Linked DNA regions of Homo sapiens. The protein of the gene in region 1 binds, or shares a complex with, the protein of each later gene. Each region holds a gene or a part of one and is shown in the gene's direction. Other genes may lie near its edges.

What was found. Proteins that work in one complex are often made in the same cells at the same time.
Region 2: USP39 (region 1) and LSM8 share a complex: the UniProt entries of both Homo sapiens proteins name them as parts of the U4/U6-U5 tri-snRNP complex.
Region 3: USP39 (region 1) and LSM4 share a complex: the UniProt entries of both Homo sapiens proteins name them as parts of the U4/U6-U5 tri-snRNP complex.
Region 4: USP39 (region 1) and PRPF8 share a complex: the UniProt entries of both Homo sapiens proteins name them as parts of the U4/U6-U5 tri-snRNP complex.

The regions. Positions count from the first base shown.
Region 1 is NC_000002.12:85,640,186-85,643,685, forward strand, and holds part of USP39 (ubiquitin carboxyl-terminal hydrolase 39), read left to right. Parts: intron 1-790; coding exon 791-933; intron 934-3,500.
Region 2 is NC_000007.14:118,187,164-118,190,663, forward strand, and holds part of LSM8 (LSM8 homolog, U6 small nuclear RNA associated), read left to right. Parts: intron 1-1,114; coding exon 1,115-1,242; intron 1,243-3,500. UniProt on the Homo sapiens protein: Plays a role in pre-mRNA splicing as component of the U4/U6-U5 tri-snRNP complex that is involved in spliceosome assembly, and as component of the precatalytic spliceosome (spliceosome B complex).
Region 3 is NC_000019.10:18,309,577-18,313,076, reverse strand, and holds part of LSM4 (U6 snRNA-associated Sm-like protein LSm4), read left to right. Parts: intron 1-374; coding exon 375-473; intron 474-3,215; coding exon 3,216-3,399; intron 3,400-3,500. UniProt on the Homo sapiens protein: Plays a role in pre-mRNA splicing as component of the U4/U6-U5 tri-snRNP complex that is involved in spliceosome assembly, and as component of the precatalytic spliceosome (spliceosome B complex).
Region 4 is NC_000017.11:1,678,368-1,681,867, reverse strand, and holds part of PRPF8 (pre-mRNA-processing-splicing factor 8), read left to right. Parts: coding exon 1-48; intron 49-177; coding exon 178-390; intron 391-813; coding exon 814-939; intron 940-1,036; coding exon 1,037-1,142; intron 1,143-2,068; coding exon 2,069-2,259; intron 2,260-2,457; coding exon 2,458-2,577; intron 2,578-2,661; coding exon 2,662-2,851; intron 2,852-2,986; coding exon 2,987-3,106; intron 3,107-3,215; coding exon 3,216-3,350; intron 3,351-3,500. UniProt on the Homo sapiens protein: Plays a role in pre-mRNA splicing as core component of precatalytic, catalytic and postcatalytic spliceosomal complexes, both of the predominant U2-type spliceosome and the minor U12-type spliceosome.

The DNA.
Region 1 (3,500 bases):
TACTTCTCATATATCCTGTTTTCAGCTTTCTGCCTGCCTCTGGGGTAGTATAGAGAAAGGAAGGTCATTTAGGAGAGGAGAAACTCCAAAAAGTGGGGAGACATACTTTTTTTTTTTTTTTGAGATGGAGTCTCACTCTGTTGCCTAGGCTGGAGTGCAGTGGTGTGATCTCAGCTCACTGCAACCTCCACCTCCCGGGTTCAAGCGATTCTTCTGCCTCAGCCTCCCGAGTAGCTGGGACTACAGGTACATGCCACCATGCCCAGCTAATGTTTGTATTTTTAGTAGAGATGCGGTTTCACCCTGTTGGCCAGGCTGGTCTCGATCTCCTGGCCTCAAGTGATCTGCCTGCCTCAGCCTCTCAAAGTGTTGGGATTACAGGCATGAGCCACCGTGCCTGGTTAGTTTTCTTTCTTTACATATATATATATATATTTTTTTTTTCTTTTTTTTTCTTTTTCCTTTTTAGTAGAGATGGGGTTTCACCATGTTGTCAAGGCTGGTCTCGAACTCCTGTGCTGAAATGATCCCCCTGCCTCGGCCTCCTACAGTGATAGGATTATAGGTGTGAGCCACCAGGCCCGGCCTTTTTTTTTTTTTTTTTTTTTAAATCAGCCTTAGCCAAACTGCACATCCTAAGCCTCATACATAATTTCTCGGACCAGGAGTCTTGTGAACTTAAGTGTGAGGCAAAATTATATTTTAAAAAATCGAAATGAAAAACTCATGCCCCTGCTCTAATACTACTGAACTTCAGCACTAATTTGAGAATTTTCTTTTCTTTCTCTAGGAATATAAGACTTACAAGGAGAACTTTCTGAAGCGCTTCCAGCTTACCAAGTTGCCTCCATATCTAATCTTTTGTATCAAGAGATTCACTAAGAACAACTTCTTTGTTGAGAAGAATCCAACTATTGTCAATTTCCCTATTACGTAAGTAACATCCTGCCTCACTTCTCTCACGGGGAGTGAACCTGGATTTCTTCTCTTGTATTTTTACCAGTATTAATTTTGGACTGTCTTAGTTGGGGATTACAAGGAACAGAGCCTACCTACAGTAGATAAGAGTTTTTATTGGAAGGATACACTTATTTCAGGGACCACAAAAGATTGATGTTTATTGGGATGCAATCCCTATTTTATCTTCTCTCCTGTTGCTAGCTGGAAATTATAGTCTTCCTGCGTAGAGAAGAAGAAATGATGCAAGTAGGATAAGACAGGTAGGATTCTGCCTGGTTTGGAAGATGTCCTGAGTAGTGAGGGTCTGCCCATCTATTTGCTGGCCATCACACCTTTTTGCACACTAGAGTTGTACTAGATGCTTTTAGTTTGCTTCCTTCCAACTCAGAAAACTTCTGCAAGATCCTTTTTGGGGGTAGACTGTTGGTTTTCAGTTCTCAAGAGACAAGGTTTTTCATACTTAAGAAGATGTTTGGCTGGGCGTGGTGGCTCACGCCTGTAATCCCAGCACTTTGGGAGGCCAAGGCAGCTGGATCGCTTGAGCTCAGGAGTTCAAGACCAGCCTAGGCAACATGGCAAAACCCCATCTCTACAAAAAAATACAAAAAATTAGCCAGATGTGGTGGTGCACACCTGCAGTCCTAGGTACTTGAGGGGCTGAGGCAGGAGGATGGCTAGAACCTTGGAGATTGAGGCTGCAGTGAGCTGAGATGGTGTCACTGCCCTCCAGCCTGGGTCTGGGTGACAGAGTGTGACTGTGCTAAAAAAAAAAAAAAAAAAAAAAGAAAGAAAGAAAGAAAATAGTGTCAGTTTTAAATTCCATGTAGTGTTTAAGAAAGTAGTATCTAAAATTAAGAGGCCTGAGTTTTAGGCTGTCTTAGTGGTGGGACCTCAGACCCATAGTTTGCGTGTTTTCTGGATATGTTCTCTCATAGATAAAATGAGAGGCTTGGAGTAGATGGGCCTGAGCCCTAGGGGTTTGTCCAGGTGTAACATCTTATTATAGTATTGCCAGGACTCTTAGAATCATGGAGGGTGAGGAGAGAGAACATTTGCAGTTGAGAATTACAGGGGAATTTCTTTTTCTCTTTTTCTACACTTTTCTCCACTAGCATCTTGTTTGTGACTAGAATTAAATGGGGGGACATGGAGGTTTGTTCTCTGCCTCCTTGAGTAGGATGACAGAGGTGCTTTCTTCGAAAGTCTGTGTGTCAAAGTTTTATTTCAGCACTAGCCTCTTGTGAATTGCCAGTCACCTGTCTGTTCCTGGTAGGTAGGGGCAGTCTGGATTCCAAGGGCAACTCCAGAGGGAGGAAGATTGTGTATCAATGGTACTTCCTGCTCAGTTGCCACAGAAATTTCCTTGCCCCATTGGTTTCTTTTATGGGCCTAGAGTAGGCCCAATATAAAAGTTTGTCCTTCAGAAAGCTTACTTCGGAGAAGTTGAGAAAAAGATTGTTTCTTAACTACGCAGTCTTTTAGAGAACATCAAATTGTGACTAATTCTGGAAACTTGCACTTTAATTATTTTATGTGCTGTAATTACTTCGAGTAATACAATTCTGGATCATTTCATTGTCCATACTTCTTGAAAAGGATCTTTTTCATACCTGTCTTCTCCTATGTTTTATTCATAACACATCCTGTTTTTGTCGGAGAGTTATCAGACTTATGGTGATTAGGCACCCTCTGCTTATTTGGAGATAGAGATTTTTGAGGGCAGGTTTAAAGTTTCACTTTCAGGTAATTAGCCATTCTCTTAACTGGTCTGTTGCTGTGGTTGGGAGATGAGTATAGTTTGCTCTTTTAGGCTGGGCGCAGTGGCTCACATCTGTAATGTCATCACTTTGGGAGGCCGAGGTGGGAGAATTGCTTGAGCTCAGGAGTTTGAGACCTGCCTGGACAACATAGCAAGACCTTGTCTCTACTAAAAAAAAAAAAAAAATGAATAGTTTGCTCCTTTTCCTATTTACTAACACAAAATGATTAAACGTAGTATTTCTCTTTTGCCGCATGGACAGTTTTGGTTCAGTCATGAAATCTTGAGTATAAAGACTTCTCCAAACCAGGCACGGTGGCTCACACCTGTAATCCCAGCCCTTTGGGAGGCCAAGGCGGGCGGATCACGAGGTCAGGAGATCGAGACCATCCTGGCTAACACGGTGAAACCCCGTCTCTACTAAAAATTCAAAAAATTAGCCAGGCATGGTGGTGGGCGCCTGTAGTCCCAGCTACTCGGGAGGCTGAGACAGGAGAATGGCGTGAACCCAGGAAGCAGAGCTTGCAGTGAATTGAGATAGCTAGCGCCATTGCACTCCAGTCTGGGCGACAGAGCGAGACTCTGTCTCAAAAAAAAAAAAGACTTCTTCACTGATACTCATTCAGACAAGTCTAGTCAGCTTTTGTTCAGGCTGAAGAGAAAATAAAATGAGAAGTCAGCCTTTAGTAGCAGGAAGGCAGGTTGGCTGACTAGAGCTCACATGGACTCAGGACTCATATCTCCTTTTTTTTTTTTTTTTGGAGATGGAGTCTCGCTCTGT
Region 2 (3,500 bases), on another chromosome or scaffold:
AGTTACAGATTTCATTCTCATTTTATTTCATTCTCTTTTTTATTTCATTCTCATTTTATATATTTTGACTTTCAGAAGATAAAACAGTTTAAGAACTTGAGAGGTTTAACCATCAAAACCAATGTTAGTTGATATTTCTTCAGAAACTTGAATACCATGTGAGTTACTCTGTTATGCTAGACCCATGTCTTCTTTTATTCAATACTAAGCTTTCATAAAACTCTCCCTGATTATTTCCTTCAAGTTCTGGTTTTAATTAGTATAGTCACATTTGTATCTACCTTACTGGGAGAATTAAACAATAAATCCATATGATACACATTAAACAATACATGTGAGACACACAGAACACTGGTAACTAGTATGTACTCATTAGGTGTTACATGTAACTACTAGTTAAATTTTTAGTATATTTATGGGACTGATTTGAATCTGAAAAATGGCAAATTATATTTACTTGTGTATAATAGTATAGAATGTTATGGTTTAGTGGTCTGGCTCAGGAGCTAGCCTTTTGTGGTTCATCTCCTGGCTCTGCCACTTACTACCCATGTGATCATAAGACACACCATTCTGTGCCTCAGTTTCTTCTTTGAAATGGGGCTAATTATAGTACTAAATCAAAGGGTAGAGATGAGTTGAGAAAATGTGTACAGTGTGTTTAGCACACTGCCTAGTGCTGGCATATAGCATATAGTGATACTATTACATTGCTGTAGTTGGTATGTATGGTTCTTCCTTATTTATGTATATTTGGCTATCATTTTCCCTTAAATATCCTTTGTCTTAGTTTATACCTTTAGCTGCTGGTCTACATAAGCTTTTATGCTACTTACTTGGAGATAGTCACATTAGTACATAGGTGTCCTTTGCAACTGCTGTCAACTCTACATATGAGTGAGATGTGTGGTGCAGGTCCCCCCACCCCAGCCAAATAACCAAGAGGTAAATTGTGTACCCTCGAATACTGTTGGTTATAAAAAAGGCATTTTATTTGCCGTCGTATAGGTACTTGTATTGGAATACCTGGCAACTAAAATGACTGTGAGGTTAAATTTACACTTTCAGGTAAACCAGAATATTTCTCTTTTTCTCCTGAATATTTTCTTTACAGGGAACACTGAAAGGTTTTGACCAGACCATTAATTTGATTTTGGATGAAAGCCATGAACGAGTATTCAGCTCTTCACAGGGGGTAGAACAAGTGGTACTAGGATTATACATTGTAAGAGGTGACAACGTGTAAGTAAAATATATCTGTTAAAATTATAAATGATACTGCCTTACTTTATGGAGAAGAGGCTTTCCCCAAAATACCCTACTGTATTGTCCATACATAGTTAATAGAATCTTGCATTCATTTCTTTCGTAAATATACCTTTTCTTATGTTTGTGTAAAATAAGGCATATGTATACATTTTATGTCAGCACTTCTTTAGGTTTCAACCAAAGCTGTCTCTCTACAAATTAAACTTTTACCTGAGATTTGCCCATTTTTCTACTAGTTAAGTAGCCTGGGTAGAGTCCAGAAAGGGCTCTGCCTTATATTAAATACTTCATTAGAGAGACTTCTTAAAACGTTCTTTCAAATACCCAGAATTTTAGAGGAACATATTTCTAGAGTCCAAGGCCAAAGTTTGAAAAATGTTTTGAAATCTCTGATTTGAACAATATTAATTCATGCTCAATAACATAGGTGTATTTATAAATAAGTACTTACTCGTTATTCATTTTCTTTTAATTTTTTAGTATCATTGACACACTTAAGATGTCCCTGTGGCCTCAGTTTACTTGGGACAGACAGATATAAAAGTTCAAGAGTAATTGGCCAGGCATGGTGCCTGTAATCCCAGCACTTTGGGAGTCTGAGGCAAGTGGATCAGGTCAGGAGTTCAAGACCGGCCTCGCCAACATGGCAAAACACTGTCTCTACTAAAAATACAAAAATTAGCCAGGCTTGGTGGCGTGCGCCTGTAGTTCCAGCTACTTGGGAGGCTGAGGTGGGAGAATCACTTGAACCCAGGAGGTAGAGGTTGCAGTGAGCCGAGATCACCCTACTGCACTCCAGCCTGGGTGACAGATTGAGACACCAATTCAAAAAAAAAAAGGCCGGGCACAGTGGTTCAAGCATGTAATCCCAGCACTTTGGGAGGTGGAGGCGGGTGGATCACTTGAGGTCAGGAGTTCGAGACCAACTTGGCCAATGTGGTGAAACCGCGTCTTTACTAAAAATATAAAAATTAGCCAGGCGTGGTGGCGCAAGCCTGTAATCCCAGCTACTCGGGAGGCTGAGTCAGGAGAATTCGCCTGGGAGGTGGAAGTTGCAGTGAGCCGAGATCGCAGCACTGCATTCCAGCCTGGGCAACAAGAGCAAAACTCCGTGTCAAAAAATAAAAAAGAAAAGTGGCTAATGTGGTTCACGTGCCGTGGCTCATGCCTATAATCTCAGCACTTTGAGAGGCCAAGGTGGGTGGATCACCTGAGCCCAGGAGTTCAAGACCAGCCTGGCCAGCATAGTGAAACCCCGTCTCTCCTTAAAATAGAAAAATTAGCCTGGTGTGGTGGTGCATGCCTGTAATCCCAGCTACTTGGGAGGCTGAGGCAGAAGAATTTCTTGAACCTGGTAGATGGAGGTTGCAGTGAGCCAAGGTTGCGCCTTTGCACTCCAGCCTGGGCAAAAAGAGTGAAACTCCATCTTGAAAAAAAAAAGAAAAGTGGCTGATGTGACAGAGGAACTGAATTTTAAATTTTATTTAATTGTAATTAATTTTAATAGTTACATGTGGCCAGTATTAGTATAGTTATAGAGGCTAGAAGAATGCCAAATCAGTTTTCTAGTGAGTACTACACTGAATCAAAATATAGTTGGAAAGAAGCAAAAGATACATTAGCAATTTTAAGCTAGAACATTTAACAAATTCTAGGGGACTAACTGTCCCCTGGAATAACTTAAAAAGTGCAGGAATAATTTACTCATTTAAGTTGTTTATGTTAGCATCACCTTTAGATGAATAAATAATTTGATCTGTAATCAAAAATCAAGAGTTTATAAAATATTTTAGAGATGACTTTTAGGTGGAGTTACAAGGTGAGCTGTAAGTAATGAGAGAGAGACAGAGCAGATAGGGCCCAGGTCTCTGGATCAGAACAACACTGTTTATATTGGAGCTGTGCATAGTAATTGATTTTAAGGTTTCTCCTACTTAAAACAATTTTTTTTTCTTGAACTTCAGTGAAAAAAGTCTTGTGCTAGAGCCAGCTTCTACTGGCCCATGAAAGCATATTGTTATATTTTAAGGAATTTTACAAGCTGGTTAATTGATGTCTTGTTAGTAGCTTGAAATTGGCCGTGGTGGGAGTGTTTGCACAATGGATATTAGTAAATGCAGCAAATCAGTCTCCCGCTTTTTTTCCAGAGAGCTGGTTTTTAAAAATGTATCAGCATTTCCCTGCTTACCATAGGGATTTTAAATGATACTGAATATTATCATTTAAAATTT
Region 3 (3,500 bases), on another chromosome or scaffold:
CAGCTAATTTTTATGATTTTAGTAGAGATGGGGTTTCACCATGTTGGTCAGGATGGTCTCAATCTTTTGACCTCGTGATCTGCCTGCCTCGGCCTCCCAAAGTGCTGGGATTACAGGCGTGAGCCACCGCGCCCGGCCCAGTATCATTTTTTAATTGCACAAAGGTTGGCGTCATGATAGACTGTCTAACTGCCAGCGAAGTGTCTAGCGGAGGCAGAGCCTGTCGCCTGTAAGGAAGGCCATTTAGGGGTCTGGGAACTGTGGGCTGAGGCCCGGAGGTGGTGGTCCATCTCAGGGCAGAGCTACACCTCCTGAGGGGCCCATGGCGCAGGGCTCCAGGGCTACAGCCAACCTCTAGCCTGTCTCTCTTCTAGTTGGTGGAGCTGAAAAATGGGGAGACGTACAATGGACACCTGGTGAGCTGCGACAACTGGATGAACATTAACCTGCGAGAAGTCATCTGCACGTCCAGGGTGGGTGCTGCACCCACCAACGGGGGTGGGATGCAGGGGGTGCACACTCAGCCTCCTCCCTCCCTCCCTGGGCCTCATGGGAGGAGTCAGTGGGGGAGGCCGCCTAGGACTGCTCGTCCTTCCAGGGGTCAGTCAGGAGGGACAGGGCAGGGTGAGCTAGGCCACCAAGTCTCCCAGTGTGCCCTGGACTTTGACCCTGTGGGAGACTTTCCTGCTGTGTGTCTGTTGGTGCCACCCCTGACCTGGAAGGACCTAGGACTGGGGACTCCCTGTGGCTCAGGCTGGGGCAGCCCCCTCCAGGGGAGGCCCAAGACTCCCGGACTCTGCTGCCTTTAGTCCAGCCTGGATGTTGCCTGCACTCTGCGGGCCATGGTAGTGTGGCCCTGGGATGTCCGGGATGCCCAGGTCACGGTGGGCAGGAGCAGCGCCAGGGCCCGGTGGGTCAGGAGCCACCAGCCAGAGCCCAAGACCGGAAGTGCCTGGCTAGGAGTGCTGCTGGGTCGGCCGGGGCTGGAAGATGGTTCCCCTGGTGTCACGGGCCTTCCCTGCCCCTGGGATGACCCACAGAGCACTGAGGAGGAGGCCAGGGATGGTGCTGAAGGCAGCGGCTCCCTTGGACTCCTCCCACCAACCTTCCCTGACCCCATCTGTCTTGTCTCCCTGTGGGTGACAGCCCCCCATGGTATAGGGAGGAAACTGCTGGGGAGCTTGGAGTGCCTGCCTGGGGTCACCTTGACAGGACAACAGGGCTCGAGGGGGGAGGCGCTTCTTCCTGAAGTGGCCGTATCTTGCCCTGACCGCCACCCCCACCCGGGACTGGGCCTCTCATCAGCACAGGGCTGGGCGGGGTGGGGACAGGTGGTGAGGCTGCTGTGCAGCAGCGCTAGAAGCTCTAGAAACTGCTTGCTGGGTTTCGTGCCATAGCCTGTCGGAGGGCGTCTGGGTGGGTCCAGTCTGGCTGTGTCGGATGGTGCCTTGGTGCAGAACCGCGTGCCTCCCATCTGCGGCCAGCGGGGCTCTGTCCACTTCCGGTATTGGAATCACCAGGCGTGTTGCGTGCGTGAGCATGTGCGGTCTTGTGGACACCTCCAGGTCCTAGACATGAGAAGCCTGTTGATTCAGAGGCTGCGTGGTCTCCAGGGGTTGGTTTGGCCTCTGCCTCCAGCTTCGAGTGGACGGATGGCTTTCCCTGAGCAGCCTGCCTCTGTGGCCAGGCGGTGATGCTGCCGTCACATGTGGCTGGGAGGAGAGGCGATGGGAACTCACATCGTCCCCATCTAAGTGGGGCCCTCCCTCCCTCAGAGGCAGGCCGCAGGATGCAGAGACCCCGGGCTGAGAGACCTCTGGAGCGCTGTGGGCAGGAGGCAGGGGCCTCCCTGCAGTGAGCTCAGGCCCTGCCCAGGTTCCTGCACGAGGAAGCCTCTGGGCCCTGCCTGGGAGAGCTGGGCGCCAAGTCACCTGCCCAGGCCCTGAGTCCCCACAGAACCATGGTGTGTCCGCCCCACGAGCCCTCGAGGGGTTCCTGGGAGAGTGAGCACCCAAAGGGGCTGTTCCTCCCCGCCCAGCGCTAGGCCAGGCCACACCTACCCAGGTGTGGAGGAGAGTGTCTGACAGGAGGACTTGGGGATTCGGGCAGGTAAGGCCTTTTGGGGTCAAAGTTAGCCAGATGAGAAGTGGGAAAACCACGTGCAAAGTTCTGGGGGCAAGCCCATGGCGTGTGTTCCGGAAACAGAAAGTTCCATCTGGAGGGAGTGTCGTCGGGCTGGGAGAGGACCGCCAGGGCGGGGCAGGATCTCGGGCCCTAGAGAGCCCTGCTGAGGTTCTTAGACCTTGCCCCCAGGCTGGAGGGGGCCCTGGGTGGGTTCCAAGCTGGAACATACTGTGATCTGACTTTAAAGGGCATCGGGGGCAAAGGCCATCCAGGCGTCGTGCGTGGGTCTGTCCAGGAACCTGGGCGGTGGGGCGGGGCTGGGAAACTGATATGGTAGGAATGGCCCTGGCCCCTGCTAATCCCTCGATCTGTCCCAGTGGGGGCCTCGGAGGCATTGCAGCATGAGTCTGTGTCTTTGCAAGGCCCCCATTTCTCCAGTCTTGGTTAGCTCTCCTAAAACTGGCATCGCTGGGAGCCGCCCTTGAGCCACCCTGGCAGGACCCAAGTCCCCCCATTTCCCGCCCCTCTTCACCCACCACACTAGGCCTGTAGCTTGCTCGCATGTCCCTGCACCCAGCGCAGGCCCTGTCAGGAGATACTTAGATGAATGAATGAGTCAGGGCATGTAGAGAGGCTTCCAGAAGTGAGGTGGGGCTGGGGCAGGAGGAGGAGTAGCTGGGCTTCGGCTGTGTCTGGTGCACAGGGAGGCCCCCACCCGCTCTGGGCTTTGGGCTGCAGGTGAAGAACCCCAACCAGAGAGAGCCCCATCCCAGGCTGGAGGGAGCCCCAGTCAGCCACTCCTGAGCCAGGCCCACGGGCAGAGGATAGGAGCCAGTCTTCCTTGTGAGTGCACAATGGGGGCTGCGCCTACCACACCCACCCTTGCTCCTGGGTGAAGGATTGCCTGGGGTCAGGACAGATCCTGCCTGCAGGGTGGACCCTTTGCCACGTATGTCCCGGGACTGATACTGTGCAGCTTGCAGGGGTGGTACGGGGTGCAGGCTGGGCAGGATCTGCAGGGCCTCCCGCGCTCCCAGGGCTGGGCCAGACGGCCCGGTGGTAAGTTAATAACCTGCTCCCCTTCTCCGCAGGACGGGGACAAGTTCTGGCGGATGCCCGAGTGCTACATCCGCGGCAGCACCATCAAGTACCTGCGCATCCCCGACGAGATCATCGACATGGTCAAGGAGGAGGTGGTGGCCAAGGGCCGCGGCCGCGGAGGCCTGCAGCAGCAGAAGCAGCAGAAAGGCCGCGGCATGGGCGGCGCTGGCCGAGGTGGGTCTCCCCTCTCCAGTGGACGTACCTGGGGCGGGAAGACAGCCACACGTGGCATCCCTCCTTCTTGGGGTTGCCCTTGCAGCGCTGCCTCGGAGCCT
Region 4 (3,500 bases), on another chromosome or scaffold:
TGTGTTGGACTGGTTCTATGACCACCAGCCGTTGAGGGACAGCAGGAAGTGAGTGATAGATGGAGATACTACACCTGGGAGGAGTTCTGGAAATGCAGAAGGAGTCCTGGGAGATCAGTAGGTGGTATGGGTTTGTCTAGCTGCTTACTTGAGGTGGGCCTTTCATTTTTTACCTAGGTATGTAAATGGCTCCACTTACCAGCGCTGGCAGTTCACACTACCTATGATGTCGACTCTCTACCGCCTGGCTAATCAGCTCCTGACAGACTTGGTGGATGACAACTACTTCTACCTGTTTGATTTGAAGGCCTTCTTTACGTCCAAGGCACTCAATATGGCCATTCCTGGAGGCCCCAAATTTGAACCTCTTGTTCGAGACATCAACCTACAGTGAGTTGGAGAGATTAGGGATTTTAGACATTTTGAGTTGAATGAAACGTAATCTTGATCCTTAAAGTCCTGATATAACTTCCAAATTAGTCTGTTTACACCAGGTGCAGTGGCTCACGCTGTAATCTCAGCACTTTGGGAAGCTGAGGCAGGAGGATTGCTTGAGCCCAGAAGTTTGAGACCAATCTGGGCAAAATGGCAAAACCCTATCTTTACCAAAAAATGTAGCTGGGCGTGGTGACACTCACAGCTTCGTGTAGTCTCAGTTACTTGGGAAGCTGAGCTGTGGGAGGATTGTTTGAGCCCAGGAGGTCACGGCTGCAGTGAACGATGATCATGCCATTGCATTCCAGCTTGGGTGATAAGAGTGAGACCCTGTCTCAAAAAAAAAAAAGTCTGCTTATTCTTGATGTTGTACCCTAGGGATGAAGACTGGAATGAATTCAATGATATTAACAAGATTATCATCCGGCAGCCTATCCGCACTGAGTACAAGATTGCTTTTCCTTACTTGTACAACAATCTTCCACACCATGTCCACCTCACCTGGTAAGAGACCTGGAACACAACATTTGGAAAGGAGAAGGCTGCTGTTTAGGTTGGGCCAGGGCGGGAAAACTTTGGCTGACTCTTCCTTTCATTTTAGGTACCATACTCCCAATGTTGTATTCATCAAAACTGAGGATCCTGACTTGCCAGCTTTCTACTTTGACCCTTTGATCAACCCAATCTCCCATAGGCACTCAGTCAAGGTGAGGAAGGGAAGGGATGCTTTCCCTCAGCTCTTCTAGGAGAAATGCGTGAGGTTGGCTGATGTTACTAAACGCTCAGGTGGAGGGAGATGTGTTTTCCGTCTTGCTAAGTGTTCCCCTTGAGCTATAAGCGAATATGAGAATTCAGCATTTGCTTTAAAACATGTCATTGGTATAATCCTGTTTTCTGTGATTATCCTTTTGGACTTTACGGTTCTTTTCTTGGGTGCTCTAGATAATCTGTCCCGGTCTGTCTCTATTGTGTTTGTTTGTTTTAGCCTTTATATTGAGATGTAGTTAACATACCATACAAGTTATCCATTTAAAGTGTGTAATTTGATGGTTTTTAGCTTATTCTCAGAGTTGTCCCAACTGTCACGACATGCAATTTGAGAATATTTTTATTACTTGAGAAAGAAACCCTTAGCAGTTACTCGCCATTTCTCCCCAACTTCCTTACGCAACCACTAATCTACTTTCTGTCTATAGATTTGGCTATTCTACACATTTCATATGATAGAATGAAATAGAATCGTACACTATGTAGTCTTCAGTGACTGGCTTCTTAAGCTTACCATAATGTTTTTGATGCTCATCTGTGTTCCGTTGTGTCCAAGCCCAGTGTTTGGAGCTTGGGTGGGAGATGATTGCAATGTTGACCTCCTGTGATGTTGGGGCTCCATTGGGAGGCTTTCTGGTGGTCAGCCAGTTGAGGTGTGAGAAGTGACGCTTGCTTTCCTGGTGGCCCTGTCTTGTTCTTTGCTGTCTTGGTTTCCTTTGTGCTGGCACTTCAGGGCTGCTTTTGTCAGACAGCCCAGTTTCCATAGCAGATACAGGCTTTGTGCTTGGCCCCAGAGAATTTCCCTCATCTTAAGTCTGTGCCTAGTTCAGCAGGAGCTAAACCCTTAGAGGGATTCCTTTTTCAGAGCCAGGAACCATTGCCGGATGATGATGAGGAATTTGAGCTCCCGGAGTTTGTGGAGCCCTTCCTGAAGGACACACCCCTCTATACAGACAATACAGCCAATGGCATTGCCCTGCTCTGGGCCCCGCGGCCCTTCAACCTACGCTCTGGTCGCACCCGTCGGGCCCTGGACATACCCCTTGTCAAGAACTGGTAAGGTTTTTCCCTGTGGCAGGGGGAATGATAGTGGATGTGTAGGAGAAAAGACTCCAACTAGGTGGGCATGTAGCCTTTTTTTTAAATTCTTTTTTTTTTTTTCCCATAAAAATGGTAGACAACCCAAGGCTTGCAGCCTTTAGCAGAGTGTCTGGAAGAAGAGATGGCCAAACTCTGGTGGGCTTATTTTTCCAGGTATCGGGAGCATTGTCCTGCCGGGCAGCCTGTGAAAGTGAGGGTCTCCTACCAGAAGCTGCTTAAGTACTATGTGCTGAATGCCCTGAAGCATCGGCCCCCTAAGGCTCAAAAGAAGAGGTAAGGTGCCCCAGGGGCCCTGCGCAGACTTCTGTTCCAGAGATATCAGTAGGCTGACTCTTACTCTCCATGTTCCCACCTCAGGTATTTGTTCCGCTCCTTCAAAGCCACCAAATTCTTTCAGTCCACAAAGCTGGACTGGGTGGAGGTTGGGCTCCAGGTTTGCCGCCAGGGCTACAACATGCTCAACCTTCTCATTCACCGCAAAAACCTCAACTACCTGCACCTGGACTACAACTTCAACCTCAAGCCTGTGAAAACGCTCACCACCAAGGTGCCTGCATTGGACCCTAGGGGCCTCCTGGGCTTCAAGGACGGACAGTTGTTTTCCTCTGGTTACTGATGAAGGCATACATCAGTTGGGTCCATTGCTCATTCACGTTCTGTCTGTTTTTTGCATCTTCTCCAGGAAAGAAAGAAATCTCGTTTTGGGAATGCTTTCCACCTGTGTCGGGAAGTTCTGCGTTTGACTAAGCTGGTGGTGGATAGTCACGTGCAGTATCGGCTGGGCAATGTGGATGCCTTCCAGGTAAGGTTAGGTATTCCCAACCCCTGCCTGGGTGAGGACGCTGGAGGAAGCCTGTGCTGACCGTGGAGCTGGTTTAAGCTCCAGGTCTGATGGGGCAATTGTATTGCAGCTGGCAGATGGATTGCAGTATATATTTGCCCATGTTGGGCAGTTGACGGGCATGTATCGATACAAATACAAGCTGATGCGACAGATTCGCATGTGCAAGGACCTGAAGCATCTCATCTATTATCGTTTCAACACGGTGAGACCTTGACTTTACTGACTTTCTTTTTTTTGAGACAGAGTCTTACTCTTGTCTCTTGGGCTGGTGTGCAATGGCACGATCTTGGCTCACTGCAACCTCCGCCTCCTGAGTTCAAGCAATTCTCCTGCCTCAGCCTCCCGAGTAGCT